Linked DNA regions of Homo sapiens. The protein of the gene in region 1 purifies or fractionates together with the protein of each later gene. This does not show direct contact. Each region holds a gene or a part of one and is shown in the gene's direction. Other genes may lie near its edges. The genes, in order: MTF2, BCL11A, SHPRH, HMGXB4, AEBP2, RMDN1 and HJURP.

Region 1 (3,500 bases):
TCAAGTGCTGGGATTACACGCCTGAGCCACTACAGCTGGCCAAGATTTGATTAAAAAAAAAAAAAAAAATCAGACACCTAAATCCTTTTGTCCATAAAATGATTTTAAACTTAAGATTTTCATCAATAGCAGACTCCCCTCTGATATCTTATTTAATCCAGCCCTTCAGAAGGACAACGTTTTTGTTTATTGTTTATTTTTTTTTGAGATGGAGTCTCGCTCTGTCACCCAGGCTGGAGTACAGTGGCATGATATCGACTCACTGCAACCTCCGCCTCCTGGATTCAAGCAATTCTGGCACCTCAGCCTCTCATGTAGCTGGGATTTACAGGCGTGCGCCACCATGCCCAGCTAACTTTTTGTATTTTTAATAGAGATGGGGTTTCACCATGTTGGCCAGGCAGGTCTTGAACTCCTAATCTCAAGTGATCCACCTGCCTCGGCCTCCCAAAGTGCCGGGATTACAGGCGTGAGCCACTTTGCCTGGCCAGGACAACTTTTCTCTAAAGCACATCATGTCAGGTATGAAAAGGTTAATCTATTTGGGGTCAGAGCTACTATTTTCAAGTTTTATACTTCATTCTGTTTAAATTTTGTTCATAATTCGAAAACTGCTGTTATAAATTATGCAAAATTCTACATTAAATGCTTAAAGTGTAACCCATTTATTAATGAATTCTGAATAATCGACTTTTTTGGGGCCTCTTACTAGATACTCTGCTAAGCTTTTTACAAATATTGTCTTATTTAATTCTTAAAACAATTTTTTGGCTGGGTGTGGTGGCTTATGCCTATAATCCCAGCACTTTGGGAGGCCAAGGTGGGAAGATTGCTTGAGGCAAGAGTTTGAGATGAGACCCCATCCCTACAAAAGAAAAAAATTATCTGGGCGTGGTATTGGTGTCTGTAGTCCTAGATAATCAGGAAGCTGAGGCGGAGGATTACTTGAGCCCAGGAGGTCAGGGCTCCTGTGAGCCATGATTGTGCCACTGCACTCCAGCCTGGGCAACAGAGTGAGACCTTGTCTCAAACAAACAAAAGAGAACAATTTTTTGAGTTGTGTAAGTCCTGTTGTTCTCATTTTACAGATGAGGAAAGTGAGACTTAGGGGATTTTAAGTAACAAGCCCAACATTGCATGTTTAGCAAGTATAACAGAGCTGGGTTGTTAACTTATACAGTATGACTGTAGGTCTTTCAATTTAGTTGTTGTACTATATTCTCCTTTTATTATAAAATCATAAAATAATTGAATTTCTGTGCTGAAAAGGACCTCACACATTATCCAGTCTAACCCCTTCACTCATTAAGTTCATGAACATAGAGATTGAGATTTGAATTTGGCCAAGTAATAGAGTTAGGGATAGACCCAGGATACTCTGACTGCTAGTTTGTGCTTATTCTGATTCTGGTGTATTACTTCACTAGGCCTAGAACTGGTAATAAGAGAACCTCTATTCTAGTTCCACTCTTTAAGGACATGGAGCAGTGTCATAGATGTAGTTTGTGCTCATTAATTATTTGTTCTAATGAACAAATGAATGAGCTCTTTTAAATGATGTGATTATTGGCAATACCTGATTTATGAGTAGGGCCTCTTCGTAAGAATTTTCCTTGTTGGCCTCCTAAGTAAAAAAATTACCCTAAACTTACTAGTAGTTAAGGAAGAAAAGCTCCACAAAGTTCAGCTCCAAGAACGTGACAAAATCTAAAGTAATGAGCCCAAGTGATAGTCCATTTATATAGCATTTATTGTTTGGGTTTGGCTCATTTTTATATCATCAAGGATATATGGTATAGTAGAGTAATCCAGAAAAGAGAACATATTGTATGGGCATAGGATGCTAAAAAAGCTCAGTAGACAATTCTGGCCTTCTCTGTTACATAGATTATCTGACTCCAGAAAAAGAACGCGTACAGGAAGATCTTGGCCTGCTGCAATACCACATTTGCGGAGAAGAAGAGGTCGTCTTCCAAGAAGAGCACTCCAGACTCAGAACTCAGAAATTGTAAAAGATGATGAAGGCAAAGAAGATTATCAGTTTGATGAACTCAACACAGAGATTCTGAATAACTTAGCAGATCAGGAGTTACAACTCAATCATCTAAAGAACTCCATTACCAGTTATTTTGGTGCTGCAGGTAGAATAGCATGTGGCGAAAAATACCGAGTTTTGGCACGTCGGGTGACACTTGATGGAAAGGTGCAGTATCTTGTGGAATGGGAAGGAGCAACTGCATCCTGACTGTAGGACTGAACATTATGTTCACTGCACTCTGATTTTCTGTAGGTACAGTTCAAAGCCCTAAAGGAGTCTGGCTTTTACTATCTTTCTTAAAAAAAAAAAAAAGTCAAAAAAATTCAAAAAAGGGGATGATACTAGCCTTAACATGTACCTGTCAATGTTATGGATATTGTCATAAAAAGGTATCTTTTAAAAATCAGAACAGAGACTTAATTTTTTAAATCTTAAGATTTGTAGAATGTTTCTAGGATAGGATATTAAAAATGATTGAAACCCATGCATGGTGTTAGACAATTTTTCTAATTATTCCATTGAGTCAGTTTTTTGTGATTAGTGATTATCAGAGCAAACATCATGTAGATAGCACAAGTATTTGGAGAAACGTTGTTTGTTTTGTTACCAAAATGTTGGAAAAATTTATTTCAATACCTTTTAGATTTCATAAAGTGCAGTGTATATAATGCCTACTGAAAGACTGTAAAATATTGAAATTTTCTTTCAAGCAAAGTGTAAAAAAATATATTGAGCCTGTAAATTGCTCTGTGACTAGACTTCATTGTCGTCTTAATATATTCTTGCATGTGCATATATATACACACGTGTATATATATGTGTGTGATTATGTGACCTATGCAATACAAATTATGGGAATGGGCAGCTTTGGAGTATATATCCCATAATTCTTTTTTCAGGAATAGTTGCAGTATTTACACAGCAGCATTTCTTCTCAGGCTTTTATTGGGTGCTGTTGCTTGCTATGTATGAAGAGAAATGTGTCAGACAAGTTTAGTGTGTTCTGAAGAAGGGTGTGAACAACAGTGTTCATGGGCTTTTAGAATGCTTTTCACTTTTAGTCCTTGTAACTCAGCTGTTCAGTACCTAAAACAAATTCAAATAATATGAACATTATCTCCTACTAGAAGTAACGTTTTCAAGTTTTCATGGCACATTATGATTGTAAATGTCTCTCATTTTTAACAGTAAGTCTATAGGAGTCCCGTGAAGATTCCTGAAATGTCTGTAGTAACTGTTAGTCATGTTTGAATAAGTGTAGTATGAACAAAGTATTTTATTGCACAGGGTTAACAAACAGTATGTTGCCAGCTGAGGCTACTGCTGTTTTATTACAACATTACCTCTTGTTTTTATAAAGTGTACCAAGATTTAAATTGATAACTTTATTTTACTTGTAAAAAAAAAGTTTCTTTTATCACCAGTGTTACAGTTGTCTTCTGTTTCTTTTTGTTTTGTTTTA
Region 2 (3,500 bases), on another chromosome or scaffold:
GAGCAGGGCATGCACCCTGAGACCAGATTCAAAGCCAGTTGTTTATTTTTGTTAACTCCTAGGTAATCCTAGGTAACAAAGAGTTATTGTGTGAATTTCATAAGCCCTCAGGTCCTGAGGGCTGGGTGGTTCAGGGGTTAAAAGCACCTCATCTGCTCCCTTCCCCCAAGCTGGGCCTAAGCCTGGGTTAGGTCACAGATTGCAGAAGGTTTAGGAGGTTGGGCTCACGGTTTCTAGTCCCTGCATGCTGGCTGGGTGGGGAGAGCTCTCCTGTTGCTGGGGGCATCTGGGGCCTGCATGGGGCTGTGGAAACGGAGCCACTTTTGGAGGGAAGGGATAGAAGGGAGTTGAGCAGTTCAGAGGAGGGTGGAGTTGAGAGGCCAAGGGCTGTTGCCAGGGAAACATAGTTCTCGGTCTTCAGCCTGGTCTTCCTGAGGGCTGGGAGTTTGATTTGACTGGTAGGAAAGTCTGAGCTTGATAGGGAACCCCTGTCCTCTCCCACCTTCCCACAAAGGGAGGGTACATAGTTTGCTGGTGCCCCTGCTGGCAGGACCAATTTAGGAGTGACCAGAACAAGGTATGTGGAAGTGGGTTGTGGGGGTCCAGAAAGCTCTAGAACAAACCTGATGCCCATTCCACTTGGCGGCATTAACCTGCTGCCCCTGGCTTCCAGAGCTCATAGCACTTCCCTGTGGCCACTCTGCTGTGTGCCAGTCACCCCTGCTCTTTAACTAGAGCCTCCTTTTGGCCTGGGTTAAGGCCTGGACTGGGACCTTCCTCTGGAAGCCGTTCGGGGTGTGTAATGTGGTTAGTCATTACCCTCAGTAATTAATCACCCCTGGTAGTAATGAAAACTCACATTCACATTCGACCTGATAGTTTACAGAGGGCTTTTATATACTTCTGTCATTTGAACTTCCCAACAATTCTTACAGGTACTGTTTTTATGCTCATTTTACAGATAGGAATTCCAAGACTCAGAGAAATCAAATGACTATCCCAGAGTTACAATCTAGTGGATAATAGAGCTAGGCCTCCAGTCTCAGACCTCCTTGTTCTTCTGAATCTTGAGGCTTAGATCACATGACTTTTTCACATTGGTGACATACTAGAAATGGGGGTCATTCCTTCCCATAAAGTAAAATGAAATAAAATAAAAGCCAGTAGGTGGGCTAATAGCTGATTTTAACCCTTTTGATGTCTCAAGTTCCTATGCTTAGGGGCCAGGTGTCAGTTTATTGCTCTAAATCAAAACAATCCCCGTAAATGCCCAATGAGGCTCTCAAATTGAGAAGTTGATTTTCATCAGAGTAAATGAAGAATATTATTATATTTTACACATCAATAAATCAATGTAGCCCTAATTTTGCCACACAGGAAATCAATTCCAGTCTTTCTAAATCATCAAAGATGTTATGAACAAAGTAATTTCACAAATTATGGCAAGTAACACATTTATTGATGACTGCAGTTTAGGAATTTAGAATCTGTGAGCACTGTAATATAATATGGTACACCGGCATGAGCTGAGTGAAATACAGATTATATGGTGAAATTGTAATGCATCATTTGCTATTAGTGGACTGGTAATAATTACCAGTTTCAAAGCAGCTCTCTCCATGTAATCTTTAGTCTCAATCGTAACAGCCCTTCTCATTGACATTATGATTACACTAGCTGCCCTCATGATCTAGAATATCTAGTTGATGGGAATACTAAAATGCGATAGTGAAAACTGTATGTTGTATGCTCATTATAAGATAAAATGCCATTTTCTCTGACCTGATGTATGAGAGAGAGGGGAGGATAACATCACAGTGTTAACATACTGTAGCATGATCACATAACTGGCTCTGAAAAAAAGTTTAGGATGCTCAGGGCAGCAAAATAAAATGGACTTTTCTCATTTAAGCCTTTTTGAAAGGATACAAATGAGATCCTTGATGTAGTGCTGTATGCCACAGATTTTGGCATTTATCAATGACTACAATTCATGGCACATGTGAAACCAGCACCACTAATTATGAGTCTAGTCCTGGATTTCAATCGATGTTTTATAAGGTAAAATATAATTTTAAGGCATTTGGAGTGATGAACGTGTTAAGGACTTGGATTATCAGACAAATCTTTTTACTTGCCCAACTCAGATCGTCAGGCTAAATAGGAATGATAGTCACCCAGAGATCTAGGGAGGACAAGGAGGAAGCCACAGAGGATCATGTAGTTGGAACCAGATAGTTTTTTTTCCAGCCTATTTGGGACCCAAGTTATTGTTCAACAACAACAAAAAATTTATAAAAATGTTCTCAATGAAGCTTTTTATTTCCCTTTGAAGAGAGGAGGCAAACAAAAATAGGCAGATAATGTGATACTAATGTCAGCGTTTTCTTTCAAAATCTTTCTGCCTTTTTTCCCCCTTCCACATTAGACAAATGTTTGAAACCTAATTTTGGTATCTTACCATCTAATCTTGTTTAAGAGATTTACCCAGGAGTGAGATATATTGAGTGGGATTATAAATGCGTTGTAAAGTAAATTACAAGGTCAGGGCAGGAGTCCATTATTTAGACAAGTGCTTGAGCGAGGCTGGCTTATTTTGGAATACCAGTGTTTGGGGGCTCCTGAGAAGACCCTGCCGGCTTTTCTTTCTGACTTGCTAAATGGAGGCATCATATAATTGATTAATTCCTCATTCTCACTCTTAACCTCCCTGGTAGATTTTTTTTTTTTTTCCTTCTTAGAAAGTTACTGACAAATACTAGCTGTGGCCTTAAAGAACTCTTGCAGCCCTTCTTTTAAAAGAAGGAGAAAAGTTTGTTATTTCTCAGTTATATTTTAAGGCTTTTTTTTTCAGAATCTCTGGGAAGTTTTGTTTTTCTCATCCTCGTCCTTTGGCTACCATTACTTCTGCCCTTTTTAATGTTGCAGTTGACTAGTAAACTGTTGGTCAGTTATTCCATATATATATATATTTAATGTAGCTATCTCCCCATATATATTTAATTTAGCCATCTCCCCAAATGAAATATTTTGTGAAGTCAAGCTGGCCCTTCTTTGCCAAAGTGGCATTTACCACTCTTGGGTTCTTTTCAGCAAGGGAAATAATGTGACTTAAGCAGGGCCCCTCTCCAGACGGCTTGGCTACTGGCCAGAGTTGACTAGCTGAACTGTATCTTTCTGTTTCTTTCTCAACTGGAGCTGAGTCCCAGCCGAGGGCGCAGGATGTTGTATAATTTGGTTCACGTTGTTAGCCTCTCAAAACAATGAGGAGGAGGATAGTGTAGCATTTCTCAGCCTGCTGCCTGTCATGGCGCTGGCTGTTTTAACTGTTCCTTAAACTAGGATGCTGTGTCTGCTTAAGTCGGCACCAGCCACTCCTCCTAACTTTTCCAGACTTGCATTTGTCTGACCGGGGGACAACTCCTAAAGATTGGATACAGCCTATCCGTTAAATCTGAATGAAGTTTTTCTTTCAGATTTTTTAAACATTCTTTGAGATA
Region 3 (3,500 bases), on another chromosome or scaffold:
TGCACCCTGGAATTTTTTAGGGATTCTAAAAAATAAAGGGAGTAGTGCCTGGGCCCTTCTCCAAGACATTCTGACTTAGTTGGCTCGACATCAGGATTTTTTTAAGTTCCCCTGGTGATTCTAATGTGCAGTCAAGTTTGAGAAGCACTAATCTGTGGTCCCCCATCCTGCGACATTACAGTTTGGTTATTGTGAAATGTGGTTTAGAGCAGGGGTCCCCACCCCTCAGGCCATGGACCGGTGCCAGTCCGTGGCCTGTTAGAACCGGGCTGCATTGCAGGAGGTGAGTTGCGGGCAAGCGAGCATTACCACCTGAGCTGTGCCTCCTGTCAGATCAACAGTCAGTAGATTACCATAAGAGCATGAATGCTATCGTGAACTGCATATGCGCAGGATCTAGGTTGTGCACTTCTTATTAAAACCTAATGCCTGATGATCTAAGGTGGAATAGTTTCATCCCTAAACAACCCCCTCTCCACTCCACCCCTCTCCTCCGGTCCATGGAAAACTTGTCTTCCATGAAACCCATTTATGGTACCAAAAAGGTTGGGAACTGCTGGTTTAGAGTGTTCTCAGGATGATGATAAGTAGCAACTACCATTTATGGAATACAGGCCAAATTTCTAGTACTGCTGTTGTACTTAAATTATTTCTAACCACAATCCTGCTATCATCCCCATTTTAGAGATGAGAAAATTGGCACAGAAGACTGGATAACTATTCCAATGCCACACAGTCAGTAAATGCCAAAGCTGGAATTAGAATGAATATAAGACTTCAAAGCATTGCATTCTCACCTTTAAGCCACATCGCTTTGCTAATGTGAGACTCTGCTAGACAGTTGCTTTTTGGGTTTTCAGAGTTAATGATTCCACAATAACCATGTTATTAATATTATTATGGTTAGTGTGATACATTGTGTAACTGGCCCAATTCCCTTCCAACACTCCCTCTACCCTTCCACCCCCCATATCCATGCTCTTTGCCATGTGCAGTTTCACCTAGTAAAGAGGTGTAGTATATTTCTTCACCACTTGACATTGGGTCCATGGATATGTCTTGCTTTGGTCTGTGGCACCTTAGTGGTTTTTAAGCACTTTGAAAACTACTTGTGTGATTGGATTTGCAGTAATACACCTCAACCATTGCCATAAAGAACATTCCTGAGTTACTTTGCTGATCCAAGGAGAGGGGATAGGAACTACATTAAGCAGAGCCAAACTGCTTTTCCAGAAACCTAGCCTAGATTAGCCTCCTTCAGCTAATGTGCAGATCTATGAGAATAAATGATTGCTATATCAAGGTATTGAGCTTTGAGGTAGTGTGTTACACAGCATGTTTGTGGCAGTAGTTAACTGATAAGCTACTATAGCATAACTTTTTAAAGTTCCTGCAGAGTGACCCACTTTCAGTATTCCAGCTTATGCTTTGAGGAAAACTGGACAAACATAAACACTTAGGAAATTAAGAGCTTTCTATATTATTCCACTAAGATAAGAGAGGATAAGATGCTTTAAAAGTAGTTGACCATAGCCAAGGATTGATTTTAATCCATCACCTGCACATTCATAAGTGAAGCACGGGCTAAGGGAATAGAATTCTCATGATTGACTTAAACAAGCACTGTCTGATACATAGACTTTTTGCAATTATGTGAATGCTCTATATTTGTGCTGTCCAGTACAGTAGCCACTAGTCACATAGCGCTACTGAGCACATGGGGCTAGTGAGACTGAAGAGCTGAGTTTATAACATTTAATTTTATTTATAGTCATGCATCACTTAATGATGGGGCTGTGTTTTGAGGAATGCATCATAGGCAAGTTTGTTGTGTGAACATCTTAAGAGTATACTTACACAAACCTAGGTGGTACCGCCAGCCTACTACACACCTAGGCTCTATGGTACAGCCTGCTGCTCCTAGGCTACAAACCTGTACAGTATATTCGGTACTGGATACTGTAGGCAGTTGTCACACCGTAGTATTTGTATATTTAAACATATTTAAATATAGAAAATGTACAATAAAGATATGGTATAAAAGATAAAAAATAGTACACCTTTGTGGGGTACTTAGCATGAATGCAGCTTATAACACTGAAGGTTGCTCTGGGTTAGTCAGGGAGTGAATGTGAAGGCCTGGGACATTACTGTACACTTCTGTAGACTTTGTAAACACTGTACACTTATGCTACACAAAGTTTATTAAAAAATAAAGTAATGCGGCTAGGCGCGGTGGCTCACGCCTGTAGTCCCAGCACTTTGGGAGGCTGAGGCATGCAGATCTTGAGTTCAGGAGTTCAAAACCATCCTGGCTAACACATGAAACCCCGTCTCTACTAAAAATACAAAAAAAAAGTTAGCTGGGCATAGTGGCAGGCGCCTGTAGTCCCAGCTACTCAGGAGGCTGAGGCAGGAGAATGGCATGAACCCAGGAGGTGGAGCTTGCAGTGAGCAGAGATCACGCCACTGCACTCCAGCTGGGCAACAGAGTGAGTCTCTATCTCAATAAATAAATAAATAAATAAATGCATTATGATGTTACAATGGCTATGATGTCACTAGTCCATAGGAATTTTTCAGCTCCCTTATGGAACCACTGTAATATTTGGTCCCTCATTGACCAAAATGTCATTATACAATGCATAACTGTATTGAAAGTTAAGTAGTCACATGCAGCCAATAACTACCTTATTGGATTTGCTTTGGCCAATAGTAGCTAGAAACTACTTCCTTGGAGGTGCCAAGGAAATCACTTCCTTTGAATCATAGGGCCACCTTGTTCCTAAATAAAGGTTCAGTCATCAGGGAAGGAGGATAGACCTTAGGCAGGTAAATAATGTCACTTTAGTTTCTTTTATGGTTATTGGTCTATTCATATTTTCCTTCTTGGGCCAGTTTTGTTCATTTGTATTTTGTTAGCAAAATTTTATCACTTTATAATTTATCATTTTATCTAGATTTTTCAGATTTATTGAATAAAGTTATACTTAATATTAAAATTTCTAAATCTCGTGCATCTTTTTGTTTTTGCTCTTTAAATCAACTTTATGATATAATTTATGTATAAGAAAATTCAATTTAAAGTATATAATTTGATGAGTTTTGACAGATGTATACTCTGCAATCATGTGTTGAACATTTATGTCACCCCAAAGCCTGCCTTCCTGCTCCTTTACTGTCAGTCACCTCTTTATACTTCCTTGCCCCTGGTAACCACTCATCTACTTTCTGCAATCAGGTTTTTGCCATTTCTAGAATTTCATGTAAATGGAATCATATAGTATATAGTCTTTCACATCTAGCTTTCTTCAGTTTAGCATAATGCTTTAACAGTTCATTCAGGTTATTTTACAGAAGTCTCTTTTTATCACAGAATAGTATTCCATTGTGTGACTATGCCACAATTTGTCCATTCACCAGTTGATGGACATTTGGGTTTTCTTCCAGTTTGGGGCTTTTAATAGTAAAGCTGTTAACATTCAAGTTTAAATTTTTGT
Region 4 (3,500 bases), on another chromosome or scaffold:
GGGAAATCCTTCTTTGGTTCTAATCATTCAGAAATTTGGTAAAAACCTAACATCTTTTTTCAAATTCTACACATATTTTTTAACCTAAGTTGATAGGCCTTGTATTGTGGGATCAAATTAAAGACACCAGAGGCAGGATGCAGTGGCTCATGCCTATAATCTCAGCACTTTGGGAGGCTGAAGCAGGAGAATTGCTGGAGCCCAGGAGTTTGAGAGCAGCTTGGGCAACATAACGAGACCTCATCTCTACAAATAATAATTTTAAAAAATAGCTGGGCGTGGTGGCTCACGCCTGTAATCCCAACACTTTGGGAGGCCGAGGTGGGTGGATCACCTGAGGTCAGGAGTTCGAGACCAGCCTGGCCAACATGGTGAAACCCCGTCTCTACTAAAAATACAAAAATTAGCCAAGCATTGTGGTGCACGCCTGTGATCCCAGCTACTCCGGAGGCTGAGGCAGGAGAATCACTTGAACCTAGGAGGCAGAGGTTGCAGTGAGTTGAGATCACGCCACTTCACTCCAGCCTGGGCGACAGAGCGAGACTCCGTCTCAAAAAAAAGAAAAAAGAAAAAAATTTTAAAAAATTAGCTAGGCATGGTAGCCCACGCCTGTGGTCCCGCTACTTGGGAGGCAGAGGTGAGAGGGTGGTTTGAGCCCAGGTGGTTGAGGCTGCTGTGAGCCATGATCACACCACTGCAATCCAGCCTGAGCAACAGAGCCAGACTCAGTCTCAAAAAAAGACACCAGAAAGATGCTTAAGGAATAAATCCCTAGGGAGTAGATGGGTTACGAGTTGAGACTGTCTCCTGACCATCAAAACATCCCCTTCCCTATAGAAAAAAATCAAAGAAGAGTGATGGGATTGGGGTTGGTTTTCTGAAAGCATCTTGCAACATTTAAATATGAGCTTCAAAACCCTTTTCCAGTTTTTGCTTTCACCAATCTTCTATTTTGTTAATAGCTAACCCTTTACTGTATTGAGTGTTTTACTCTTTTATGCCAGATTTTGGGGAACTTAGTAAAAAACTGGCTGAGGTGTGGAAGCAATTACCAGAAAAAGACAAACTGGTAAGTACATTTTCTTACAAACATATTTTTCAGTGCTTCTCGCCTTCCAAAATATGTAATTCTTCCATAGACTAGCCAGCCAGACAGCACTGAAAATAGTGAAGAAAATTACAAATCAACAGAAAATGGTTTAGCAGAGGACATTAACACTGTTAGTGCCAGTTCACTGTACATGAGGATTTAGCTATAGCAAGGCTGTCTTTTCTAACCTGGTCTGTTTTTTCCAGCAGTGTTACATTTGAGCCAAAAGATGACCTAAGTTGAGGAGTAATTAAAGTGTTAAAAGAAAGTCTAAAATCAGAGCCCTTTACTGCAAACACCTAGTAATCAGTCATGGTCTGAGAACTGAGGAAAGTTATCCACTTAGCAGTCACTGCAAACAATAAAAATATGAGAATGTGATTACTAGGTAACCAGGTTCAAGGTCATCATCCTCATCAACCATTACCAAATAATGTACTCTACTATCAAGAAGGTAGTAAGACACTGATAAACAGTCATATCTGGGCTGGGCACGGTGGCTCACGCCTGTAGTTCCAGCACTTTGGGAGGCTGAGGCGGTGGATCACCTGAGGTCAGGAGTTCGAGACAAGCCTGGCTAACATGGTGAAACCCCATTTCTACTAAAAATACAAAAAATTAGCCAGGCATGGTGGCGCATGCCCGTAATCCCAGCTACTCGCGAGGCTGAGGCAGGAGAATCACTTGAACCCCGGAGGCGGAGGTTGCAGTGAGCCAAGATCACACCATTGCACTCCAGCTTTGGGCAACAAGAACAAAACTCCATCTCAAAAAAAAAAAAAAAAAAAAAGTCATATCTGAATCATTGAGACTTATGATATGAAGGTCATATAGGAGCAAGATGTCATCTAGATGAACAGCCATTCTTCACCCAGATTATCCTTAGTTTTTGTTTTCCTTGTTATTGTTATTCTGCTATTGTGTTGGTATTGCCAACTAGCAGGTTAGTAGAACCACATAGACATTATATTGAGCCAGAGGTTTAATCTGTGATTTTACATTTCAACTTAGAGTGATCTAAAAATCAGTGCCGAGATTTGACCATTAGCATTGAGGAATGTTTATAGTCCTTTACTAAGATATTAATGTAGTCAGCTGTCTGAAGTCAGTTCGGTGACCCCCAGCTTAAAAGTTAGCATTAACCCTCTGTCTGCCCGCCTCTTACTATTGCCTTTCTTTTCTCCATTTTGTTCTTTCATGACTGCTTTTCCTTTTACATTTTGTCCTTCTTAATTTAATTTAATGTTCACTGATGTGATTGCAGATTTGGAAGCAAAAAGCTCAGTATCTGCAGCACAAACAGAACAAAGCAGAAGCCACAACTGTGAAAAGGAAAGCATCCAGCTCAGAAGGTTCCATGAAAGTCAAAGGTAGTGACCACATCCCGCCCCTGCTTTTCTCTAAAGCATGTGAATTTTGCTTCCTTGCTAAGAAACTGGGAAAAAAGCTTGCAGTATTAGAAGTGGACCTTGATTCCCAGGTATTATTACCTGGGAATGTTACAAGCTACCAAAAAGAGATGTTCAAATTTAGAAAATGCAAATCAGAAGTCAGCAAACTTTTTCTTTAAAGGTCCAGAGAGTAGACCAGGCGCAGTGGCTCATGCCTGTAATCCTAGCACTTTGGGAGGCCAAGGTGGGCGGATCACCTGAGGTCAGGAGTTCGACACCAGCCTAACCAACATGGAGAAACCCCGTCTCTACTGAAAATACAAAATTAGCCGGGCGTGGTGGCGCATACCTGTAATCCCAGCTACCAGAGAGGCTGAGGCAGGAGAATTGCTTGAACCCGGGAGGTGGAGGTTGCGGTGAGCCGAGATCGTGCCATGGCACTCCAGCCTGGGCAACAAGAGCAAAACTCCATCTCAAAAAAAAAAAGGTCCAGAGAGTAAATATTATAGGCCTTGTGTGCCGTATGCATTCTCGCATTCTCTGTCACATATTCTTTGTTTTTCTATAGCCCTTTAAGAATGTAAAACTATTCCTAACTCACAGGCCATAAAAAACAAGAGACCATAGACTGAATTTAGCCCACAGGCCACAGTTTTGCTAATGCCTGGTATAATTCATAAAAAGGGAAAATCAGGAAGAACAACTTTGTGTTGTTCAAGGCTGTAGGCAAGTTTTACCTGTCTGCCTCATTGCTCTGTTCTCAGCCTCTTCTGTAGGAGTACTGTCACCCCAGAAGAAGTCCCCACCCACCACCATGCTGTTACCAGCCTCACCAGCCAAAGCCCCTGAGACAGAGCCCATTGATGTTGCTGCTCATCTTCAGCTGTTGGGAGAGTCCCTAAGCCTCATTGGACACCGTCTGCAGGAAACTGAGGTGAATACAACTATCAGCAGCATGACTACAGTTTCCCATATAGTTTCCCATATAATTTTGATTCATTCACTCATTTTACATACAT
Region 5 (3,500 bases), on another chromosome or scaffold:
CGATCCATCTTTTCCTTCAGCTCAGCAAACTTGCATGCAGTGTGAGCCGTGTGGCAATCCAGTACAGGGGCATAGCCAGCACTTATTTGGCCTGGAAGGTTCAGGATAATCACCTGAGCAGTGAAGCCAGCCGCTTCCATTGGTGGGTCATCTTTGCTGTCACCAGCATCATTGCCATGACGAACATCCTTGACAGACACATTCTTGACATTGAAGCCCACATTGTCCCCAGAAAGAGTTTCACTCAAAGCTTCATGGTGCATTTCGACAGATTTTACTTCAGTTTTAATGTTGACTGGAGCAAAGGTGACCACCATACCAGGTTTGAGAACACCAGTCTCCACTCGGCCAACAGGAACAGTACCAATACCACCAATTTTTGTAGACATCCTGGAGAGGCAGGCAAAGGGGCTTGTTAGTTGGATGAGTTGGTGGTAGGATGTAGTCCAGAGCCTCAAGCAGCATGGTTCCACTGGTATTGCCATCCTTACAGGAGGATTTTCGTCCCTTGAACCAAGGCATGTTAAAACTTGGCTCCAGCATGTTGTCACCATTCCAACCAGAAATTGGCACAAATGCTTCTGTGTCGGGGTTGTAGCCAATTTTCTTAATTTAAGTGTTGACTTCCTTAACAATTTCCTCATATCTCTTCTGGCTGTAGGGTGGCTCAGTGGAATCCATTTTGTTAACACCGACAATTAGTTGTTTCACACCCAGTGTGTAAGCCAAAAGGGCATGCTCCTAGGTTTGTCCATTCTTGGAGATACCAGCTTCAAATTCACCAACACTGGCAGCAACAATCAGGACAGCACAGTCAGCCTGAGATGTCCCTGTAATCATGTTTTTGATGAAGTCTCTGTGGTTAAGTCTCTGTGTCCTAGGGCATCAATGATAGTCACGTAGCACTTGCTGTTCTCAAATTTCCACAAGGAGGTATTAATGGTGATACCACGTTCACGCTCAGCTTTCAGTTTATCCAAGACCCAGGCCTACTTGAAGGAGCCCTTTCCCATCTCAGCAGCCTCCTTCTCAATTTTTTCAATGGTTCTTTTGTTGATGCTACCACATTTGTAGTTCAGATGGCCAGTAGTGGTGGACTTGTACGAATCTACGTGTCCAATGACGACAATGTGGATATGAGTCTTTTCCTTTCCCATTTTGGCTTTTAGGGGTAGTTTTCACAACACCTGTGTTCTGGCGGCAAACCCATTGTGAAAAGAAAAAAAAGCTAGTCAGAGAGATCTTTTCGGTTCCTACTAGTCAAAATGTCACAGCAGCATCAAGCGGGCACTTGTTAGAAATGCTTTATCTCAGGACCTACCCTAAACCTGCTGAATCAGAATCTGCAGTTAATAATACTGAATGCAGAATCTGCATTTGATTTGTATACACATGAAAGTTTGAGAAACACTGCTTTAGATTATCTAAGCTATCTGCATAGTGTGAGTGTATTGTCTGGCTTAGGTATTCTTCCAAATATCAGGGTGTATAGGTCTTCACATTTCATGAAATCAGTAGGTGTTCATTGAAAAGGAGAATTAACTGTGTGAAAAAATTTAACATATGTATGGTCCTAGAAATACTATAAGTTTAGGTGGATTGTCTCTTGTTACATAACGTATTATAGGAGGAAGGGCACTGCTTTCTGTGAAATTGCTATCTAGCTCAGGGTCCTGTCACAATCAGAAGTTACCTGTCATTTGTTTTCTGTCCTCTACTGTTGCATCAGGTCTGTTGCCTTCATCAGTCGAGAGAATGGAGAGGACCACTGGTGGCAGCATGGGTCTGGGGCCAAAAGGGAGCCTAGAGGCTTAGGATTGGATACTTCCTAGAAGTTGGAGGAGCCTAAGAGGGGTTGTGAAGCAGAACTTCTGTTGGCCCTGTTCAGCTTGGGGGAGACTCTGTGTGGGATGTCTTGAGTGTTCCAGGACGTGCCTCTCACCTTGTCTGCCATTGTATTCACAGCTTAGTCCCCAGTGGTAGGCAAAGCTCATGCTCTTAACATTTACATTATGTTGTCTTTATGAGGAGCTATATCCACATGAAGTATTGTTTCAAGTGTGTGATATCACACATAGACTCAACAATGATTACCGTTACCAGATTTTGGACTTTTTTATATGGTTCCTTTTCTTTGGCAAAGGTAATAAGCAAAAGTACATGAAGTACTATGTAGACAGACAGATTCCATAATGATGTTTCGCAGCTATATAAATCTCTCTTAACCTTACTGTGTCCAGTTAAAAAAAATCGATTTGGTTTTCAACTAATTTTGGACTTTTTAATAAAAGCAGTATAGGTACAGCATGGTTAAAATGGTATAAAAGGGTATATACAGTGAAAGATAAGTTTCTCTCCCACTCTTCCCTTCCCCCAAATATTTACTAGGTTTCGTATATCTTTCTGTGCCCTTGGAGACTAGCTATGTCTCTGTCTCCCTCCCCAACTTAGGTATGCAAATTGGATCATGACTACCCTGCACTTGTGTGTGTTTTACTTAACTATACCTTGGAGATTGTTCCATATCACATTGAGTTTTTATTGCTTTTCCTGAGATTGTTTATAAATTGGTTATGATTGGTTGTTCACTTAGAATTATTAGTATTTGCCTTGGAGTTAAATTAGTATAGTTTATGTAAGTATGTGCTTTACAGTTGAATGTTTTAAAATATTTAAAGCAAGTGATAGGGAAAATAGGTAACCATTTCAGGGTTAAGGGCCTCATGAAACTTGAAATTTCTTTTTTTTTCTTTTTTTTGAGACAGAGTCTCGCTCTGTTGCCCAGGCTGGAGTGCAGTGGTGCGATCTGGGCTCACCGCAAGCTCTGCCTCCTGGGTTCATGCCATTCTCCTGCCTTAGCCTCCTGAGTAGCTGGGACTACAGGCTCCTGCCACTATGCCTGGCTAATTTTTTGTGTTTTTAATAGAGACAGGGTTTCACTGTGTTAGCCAGGCTGGTCTCGATCTCCTGACCTCGTGATCCGCCCGCCTCAGCCTCCCAAACTGCTGGGATTACAGGCGTGAGCCACCGCGCCCGGCCGGGGGAAACTTGAAATTTCTAGGGTTTAAATAAAATATGTATTTCGGTATAGAAAAACCACCATACCCAAGGTTAGTCTTGCAACAACAAACAATATATGTATATTCAGATATTCAAGAGCTGATTCACATTTGAGAGTTTTACAGAGATTACAGAGTTTTAGAATGAAGCCTTAGAGTTGCACTTTAGAATCTATATTGACTAGGCAGGTAAATATATATTTATTGCATTTAACTAACTAGGTAGGTAGATAGATGAGCTTAAATACTAGAATATCCTTTAAAGGAAAACCTGAGACATTTTTCATATCTGAAGCATCCTACAAAAATATCTTTGCTTTTAAAAATGGATACGTTTCTAGCATGGGCAGCAAAACAAGACTCTGCCGCTACAAAAAAATAGAAAAATTAGCTCGGTGCAGTGGCTAATGCCTGTAGTCCCAGTACTTTGGGAGGCCAAGG
Region 6 (3,500 bases), on another chromosome or scaffold:
TCTTAACCATTACAAATATTTGAAAATGTGTACCTCACACATTACTAAACTGAAAGCAAAAGTGTGGGTTTATAGAAAAGCATAAACTAGGAAATCTTAATTTTTTCAAAAAGAGTCCTTTTAATATGAACATTAATCTGTAAGATTTCTTTAGTTGTTTTCAACAAAATAATGGATAAAAGGAGGAACAGTTTCTTTATTCTGTAGTTTATATTCACATAGTAAATATAAATTAGGGAGATTCAACATATTTTACATTGCACATAATTATTCTATTAATATTCTATAAACTGTTTATTTTTCCTTTGGTAAGTACAGATGGGGAAGTTGAACAAAATCTGCATACAAGAAGACTTTCTAAAAATAGAAAAGACTTTCTAAAATCTGCATAGAAGAGACTTTCTAAAATTACATTTTTTCTAAAAAACTAAAATGCACTTTTCTTCTTTAGGAAAGAATGACTTTTATTCAGTATTCATCTACAGTTTGCCAAGAAAGTACTTCCTTATCCATTTTTCCTTTAATTTGGAAGAAACATTAAGAGCTATAGATTAATTTGCAAGATTAATTTGCAAAATTAATCCATTTATGTATTTCATGTTTTTTCTCATCTTGATAGACACTTACTATAAATGTCTGAACCATACAAAATAGTAACATTAGTATAAGTCATTAATAGTGTTTTGAAATGAATTTAATCAAAGAATCAGGAGGAAGAAAGTTGATATTATAATGGGAGAACTGAAACACACAGTTGCATTTTTTAAAAAATCATGGCTTCTTCAGCAAACACAGTAAAGCACTTATTGGTGTTTAGAAAACAAATATGATTTATTTTTCTCATTTCTTGTTAGAAAGCAATTGAACTGAACCCTAAAGATGCTACTTCAATTCACCTTATGGGTATTTGGTAAGAAAATTTCTTTAAATATTTCAGTAGTATTTAGTGTGATATTTTGTAGTATGTATAAATATCTTCTTTTGCATATATAAAAGATATTAAATATTTTAAAATATTATCTGACAGAGCTTAGAGTGCTAAATCCATTAACTAGCCCTTGTATATATATTGTTAGAACATACTAAATTTGATTATGACCATGTTAAACATTGTTATTCAGGTCATTTAGAAACATGTACAGACTGAAAAGACTATTCTTATTTACCATGCTAAATGAAATTAGATTAATGTAACTATAGTAAAACAGTAGAATGCCCCAAGAGGGTCTTTGTATCTTCAAAGTGTGTCAGATACAGTCTTGATTAATCTGAGGAACCATATAATCTGATTTTCAGTATCTTTCTATTTTTATGTGATCTTATGTCCACTGTAGATTATTATTTTGCTGGTATGAGGCTTTATCAAAGTGTTACGTACTTGATGGTTTAAGAGTCTGTTTTGAGATAGATGGGACACTCTTTTGAGTATAGCCTGCAGAGCTGAATATTTACTGCCATCTAAGAAGGGTACCAGTGTAAACTGTCCTGTATCAAACTCTTTTAAAAGAGAAATATATTCTTCAGGATAAAGGACATATTAAGCTAACACTCATTCACTGAGGATTAATGATAATTGAGGGGCAGTCACTAAGTCAGATGCTAGTAAGCAAACCCAAATGAAATAGCAATTTCTGCCTTAAGGACTTCAGACCCTAGTCAAAGATGCAACACTTTCTTTCCTACTTATTTCTGAAAGTTGTAAAGATCTTTGGAGGTTAATCATTTGCTTTGCTGCTTTAAAAATAGATTTAAGTTGTTGGTTGCTGTTATTTATACATTTGATGTTTAGCTTTGTCATTTTTCTTGTGTAAGGTTTAACTTCTCTGAGTTTTTCTTATAAGAAAAATAGGGGAAATTATCCTATCTCATATATAATTGTTACAAGGAATAAATGAGAGAATCAACCCACTACCTGGCACAATGCACTCAGTGGTAGATGTATATTATATTACTGTTATTAGTATGACTGCTTACTATTTATATTTAATCACAAAATACACCCCCCAGCTAAAGGATCACTATGTCAATCTCTGGATTACCTAGTAGATATCATGTAAAGCACAAGTTGTTTAAACATACAGTAGAAGATTCCTTTTATAGTATTAAGATGCTTAGTTAACTTTAAGAGAAAAGAAGGTACAATTTGAATGTATAAAATTGTTTTATTTCCCTGTAGGTGCTATACATTTGCCGAAATGCCTTGGTATCAAAGAAGAATTGCTAAAATGCTGTTTGCAACTCCTCCTAGTTCCACCTATGAGAAGGTAGTATGATGTCCTTTGTTAAGTTAGTACGGATTTCTTAACCACAGCGCCATTCTACCATGTGTTCACACATGTGGAGCTCTGATTCAGTGAGGGACTTGAGCAATTTCTAATGATCCAATTCAACTGTGTTATCACAAGGCTTAACACTTATTATCCTTGACTGGTGAGTGGTTTTCTTTTTCCCCGTTAGGTGAGTGGCTGGTAATTCTGGAATACTGTCATCTAAAATGGCTCGTGGCTAAAATCTACCTTCATTTTCTGTTTGAAATCTAAACTATATTGAAGTCATAAAATAGAACAAGAAATACAGCATCTGTTACCCAGCATGTTTTAGCTGTATTACACACAATAACAGAAAAGTAAAGCAGATGCTTAAGTTGATAAAAGAAGAACACTCATTATAACTTCTATTTTAAAAAGCATATGAAAGGTTCATATTCTCTCATATTTTCAAGGCCTTTTGCTTTTCTTGTTAAAAATAAGATTTGAGAGGAATTTCTGGTTAAACTTTGGGTTTACTCATCACAAGCTTTTCAGAGTAAGAAAACAGGCAATCGAAAAAGCTGTACTTGTATTATTTACATTATAACAAGGAGCTTTTTTTTCTTTCTGGGAAGCTATAGTGTAGAAATTGATGTAAAAAATACTTAGTTGTATTCTTTACACACAGTTGAGAAATATTATTAAAATAATGCACCAATATTTTATAATGGTATTATTAAAATAATGCCCATTTGCTGGACACGGTGGCTCATGCCTGTAATGCCAGCATTTTGGAAGGCCAAGGTTGGTGGATCAGTTGAGCCTGGGAGTTTGAGACCAGCCTGGGCAACGTGGCAAAACCTCTGCAAAAAAAATACAAAAATTAGCCAGGTGTGGTGGCCTGTGCCTGTAGTCCCAGTCACTCAGCTAAGCTGAGGGAGAAGGATCACTTGAGCCTGGGAGGTCAAGGCTGCAATAAACAGTGATTGCGCTACAGCATTCCAGCCTGGGCAACAGAGTGAGACCTGGTTCTTTTTTTTTTTTTTTAAGACAGGTCATTTTAAGGACAAAAAATATAGTCAGCTCTACTTTATCAAATTAGTTATGTTTCTAGAAATCAAATGTCATTAGAGAATGCATTACAAAAACAGTAGCTTAAGTAGGACAAAAAGAGTTTCAGACTTAACATTGTATGTAGGAATTTCAATAATAATGGACTCTTAAAAATTCACTAGTACAACGAATAAATTC
Region 7 (3,500 bases), on another chromosome or scaffold:
TACTGCTATTAATCCAGATTTTAACTATAAATCCTTAGGTCCATGAATTTCCCCAACCGCTTGAAATCACAGGAAATAGTTATTTGATAGATGTACTGCCCAGTATGGCACCCACCAGCCCTCTCTGGATGATATTTAAATTAGTTGAAAGTGAAATAAAATTTAAAATCCATTTCCTCAGCCTTACTGGCCACATCCCAGCTGTTCAGTAGCCCGGTGTGGCTAGTGGCTGGCCTAGGACAGCAGGCAGAGAACTTTCCATGGTCACCGGAAGTTCTGTCGAGCAGTGCTGGGCTTGAGCGTCTCAACTTCCAGGCTCAGAGGCCATGGAAAGCTGGAGGTGGTGCAGAATCTGCCTTTCCTCACTCCATGGCCCCAGGCAGTTTCCCATTCTAGGGGTTCTCTGGGTTACTAAGAACCACGGGCAGCCGTAGATGGCTCCAGTGGGTGCACCCTTGAAGCAATGGGGATTTTTACTGTACAACTTACTCGAAGTGATGCCAAAACCATCCTTGAGAGGAAAATGCACTCCTTCCTGAAAATCCTGATTGAGATTTACTTGTTTGACTTTTAGATTCAAAAAGCGGTGAGGTCGATGCCACGTCAGACCAGGAAGAGTCAGTTGCTTGGGCCTTAGCAGTAAGTGCTGCCTTTAGTAATGAATGGACAGAGGGGGCGCTTGGGGGCTCAGGGGTCCATCAAAGCCCATGTGGCCTGAGGCGGGCAGCGCTGCCTGCACTTTTCTGGAAGTCCTCTCCTGAGGCTGGCTTTTGCTACTTCCAAGTCTCGGATTTCCTCGTGTCGATTCCCTTCAGCGGTAAGGCCCTCCTCTCAGTCTAGCACCTGGCAGCCAGTTCTACCCCCAGTGCAAGCCTGATTCACGATGATTTTCACTCTGCAGATAAAGCTGTCAGTGTGGTTGGCAGGGCGCCATCTGCCTGGATGAGCACACGACAGGAAAGCTGGGCTCTCGGTCAGTCTCCCCTACAGGGGCAGGGTAAAAAGAGAGGTGTTCTAGGGAGTATTTCCAGGTCTGTCCTCAAATGCCCCAAGTCACAAGGTCGCCTCATTGGGCAGCCGTCACTAACCCAAACAGTAAGTGTCATCTATATGTCTGTTTCCCAGAGTGCCCCCTGGGTCACAGAAACCACCCGTTTTCTTATGGGATGTGCTTCTTATCCTCCTTGGTTGGGATAGATGCGAATTTACACAGAGCTTAACCAGCTCCAGCATCTTTCCTGGCCCCCGTGTCACACTCTGTTGCCTGCCAGAATACCTGATGCATGGTTTTCCTCTAAAATTGCTACTTTTGTGCAGAGGGTTTCCCACGCACCCATGTGTGACTTTCAGTGACTAAGAAAAAGGCCGTGGTCCTGGGGAAGAAAGTGGATGCTCACTGAGAGATTGTGTAGGGATTGGAACAAAGGGGAAGTGGGTGGTACCAAGAGTCAAGAACCAAAGTGCCAGCCCCACTCAGCAGAGGATAGAGGGTGACGCCCTCTATTTCCAGTGTCTAGCAGGGGAGGGGTAGGAGAGCCTCCTGAGCTGGAGCACTGAATTTCTGTTTTTGTTTTTGGTTCTTTTGAGATGGAGTTTCACTCTGTCACCCAGGCTGGAGTGCGGTGGGGCAATCTCAGCTCACTGCAACCTCTACTTCCTGGGTTCAAGCGATTCTCCTGCCTCAGCCTCCCAAGTAGCTGGGACTACAGGCGCCCACCACCATGCCCAGCTAATTTTTGTATTGTAGTAGAGATGGACTTTCACCATGTTGGCCAGGCTGGTCTCGAACTCCTGGCCTCAAGTGATCCACCTGCCTCAGCCTCCTAAAGTGCTGGGATTACAGGCATGACCCATCACACCCAGCCAGGAGCACTGAATTTCTTATAAACTTACCAGTTTGAAGTTATTACCAGTAGTTGAGTCCTGAACTCACCTATGAATATTCAGATTTTTTTTTTCCTGGTCTAGCAATGCTGTCATAAACTTCTCTAGACATGGTTTTTTTGTGTGTGTGTGTCTTTTTACATTCTTTTGGATTATTAACATAGCAGGAAGTGAAAAAGTGACTTTGAATAACATCATGGAGGTGAAAGTGACTTTGAGTAGGATCATGTAAAGATTTGTACATTAATGAGCTTGCCAGTTTGTTCCAGAAGCCAAAAGGTCAGCTATACTCAGAAGCTCTTAAAAATTCTGACTTCTCTTTTTTGATCAGCCTGCAGTGCCTCAAAGCCCTTTGAAAAATGAATTAAGAAGGAAATACTTGACCCAAGTGGATATACTGCTACAAGGTGCAGAGTATTTTGAGGTAATCTGTTTCCCAGTTGTTTGTTTTTATATAATTAGATCATAAACTAAATACATTGAGGTACAGTGTTATTATGCTTTTTGTTTTTTCTACAGAACCCATAAAGAGCATTTGAAGTAATGATTTCCAAATTGTTTTATTCACATGCTGACATACTTGCTCTTCTTGAATAAACACTCCAGGTCCCCCAGGGCAGCGCCATCAGGAAGGTGGGAGCCCTGGCAGGGGTGCTCTGCCCACTGTTCTGGGGCAACTCACAGAAAAATCTAGTGGGGCAGCCAGGCACAGTGGCTCATGTCTGTAATCCCAGCACTTTGAGAGGCCAAGGCAGGTGGGTCACTTGAGGTCAGGAGTTTGAGACCAGCCTGGCCAACATGGTGAAATCTCATCTCTACTAAAAATAGAAAAATTAGCTGGGTGTGGTGGTGCGTGCTTGTAATCCCAGCTACTTGGGAGGCTAAGGCAGGATAATCGCTTGAACCCAGGAGGCGGAGGTTGCAGTGAGCTGAGATTGTGCCACTGTGCTCCAGCCAGGGTGATAGAGCAAGACTCTATCTCAAAAAAAAAAAAATCTATTGGGGCCACACACGGGACTCTTAAGAGCAGCCCTGACCTCTGGACCAGGATTTGAAGCTGCATAGTTAGGGAAGCAATAGTCCCCACATTCCCTGGTGCGATCAGGCTAGAATCAGCTGCAAGGTGAGGAGGCTGACCCTTGGCACCTGTCCCGCCTGCTGAGAGGTCATGTTGGGAGGGGGGGGATGTGATGGCATGAGAGGTGGGCACACTCACCTGCCAACCCCTCTCTTAAGGTCAGTGCCCTCTGCCATAGAATAAAGGACATTGCAACACCAAATACTTAGGAAGTACACATTGCAGAATAAGAATTCATCTCCAGAAAAAGGCAGCAATCTCACAGGGGTGTATGTGTTTTCTTACTGTGCTGCTGACCAGCGGAAAGCCTGTATTTGTGGACCACCGACTTAGTGGATGTACCTGAAATGCTTTTTCCTTTAACCCAAGGCAGCAAGTGGTGTCCTCTTGGTTGCTGTGTTGATCCAGGGAACAGATTAGGGTTAGGAACGAACGGATCTACTGGGTCTTCTTTGTCCACCGTCCGGTTGGCCCCTAGGTGTTCTTGTGGTCTGAGTATAATGCTAGACAAAGAAAGCTACCAGCGCCCCTGGGGTAA

What was found.
Region 2: the proteins of MTF2 (region 1) and BCL11A purify together in Homo sapiens (affinity purification with mass spectrometry, with the first as the bait; one large-scale study listed by BioGRID). This does not show direct contact.
Region 3: the proteins of MTF2 (region 1) and SHPRH purify together in Homo sapiens (affinity purification with mass spectrometry, with the first as the bait; one large-scale study listed by BioGRID). This does not show direct contact.
Region 4: the proteins of MTF2 (region 1) and HMGXB4 purify together in Homo sapiens (affinity purification with mass spectrometry, with the first as the bait; one large-scale study listed by BioGRID). This does not show direct contact.
Region 5: the proteins of MTF2 (region 1) and AEBP2 purify together in Homo sapiens (affinity purification with mass spectrometry, with the first as the bait; one large-scale study listed by BioGRID). This does not show direct contact.
Region 6: the proteins of MTF2 (region 1) and RMDN1 purify together in Homo sapiens (affinity purification with mass spectrometry, with the first as the bait; one large-scale study listed by BioGRID). This does not show direct contact.
Region 7: the proteins of MTF2 (region 1) and HJURP purify together in Homo sapiens (affinity purification with mass spectrometry, with the first as the bait; one large-scale study listed by BioGRID). This does not show direct contact.

What each region holds. Positions count from the first base shown.
Region 1 is NC_000001.11:93,134,783-93,138,282, forward strand, and holds part of MTF2 (metal-response element-binding transcription factor 2), read left to right. Parts: intron 1-1,887; coding exon 1,888-2,245; 3' UTR 2,246-3,500. UniProt on the Homo sapiens protein: Polycomb group (PcG) protein that specifically binds histone H3 trimethylated at 'Lys-36' (H3K36me3) and recruits the PRC2 complex, thus enhancing PRC2 H3K27me3 methylation activity.
Region 2 is NC_000002.12:60,463,155-60,466,654, reverse strand, and holds part of BCL11A (BCL11 transcription factor A), read left to right. Parts: intron 1-3,500. UniProt on the Homo sapiens protein: Transcription factor. Associated with the BAF SWI/SNF chromatin remodeling complex. Binds to the 5'-TGACCA-3' sequence motif in regulatory regions of target genes, including a distal promoter of the HBG1 hemoglobin subunit gamma-1 gene.
Region 3 is NC_000006.12:145,957,859-145,961,358, reverse strand, and holds part of SHPRH (E3 ubiquitin-protein ligase SHPRH), read left to right. Parts: intron 1-3,500. UniProt on the Homo sapiens protein: E3 ubiquitin-protein ligase involved in DNA repair.
Region 4 is NC_000022.11:35,284,993-35,288,492, forward strand, and holds part of HMGXB4 (HMG domain-containing protein 4), read left to right. Parts: intron 1-1,004; coding exon 1,005-1,069; intron 1,070-2,354; coding exon 2,355-2,460; intron 2,461-3,245; coding exon 3,246-3,415; intron 3,416-3,500. UniProt on the Homo sapiens protein: Negatively regulates Wnt/beta-catenin signaling during development.
Region 5 is NC_000012.12:19,456,492-19,459,991, forward strand, and holds part of AEBP2 (zinc finger protein AEBP2), read left to right. Parts: exon of another isoform or gene 1-1,218; intron 1,219-3,500. UniProt on the Homo sapiens protein: Acts as an accessory subunit for the core Polycomb repressive complex 2 (PRC2), which mediates histone H3K27 (H3K27me3) trimethylation on chromatin leading to transcriptional repression of the affected target gene.
Region 6 is NC_000008.11:86,477,687-86,481,186, reverse strand, and holds part of RMDN1 (regulator of microtubule dynamics protein 1), read left to right. Parts: intron 1-854; coding exon 855-910; intron 911-2,176; coding exon 2,177-2,264; intron 2,265-3,500.
Region 7 is NC_000002.12:233,844,536-233,848,035, reverse strand, and holds part of HJURP (Holliday junction recognition protein), read left to right. Parts: intron 1-574; coding exon 575-639; intron 640-2,215; coding exon 2,216-2,308; intron 2,309-3,500. UniProt on the Homo sapiens protein: Centromeric protein that plays a central role in the incorporation and maintenance of histone H3-like variant CENPA at centromeres.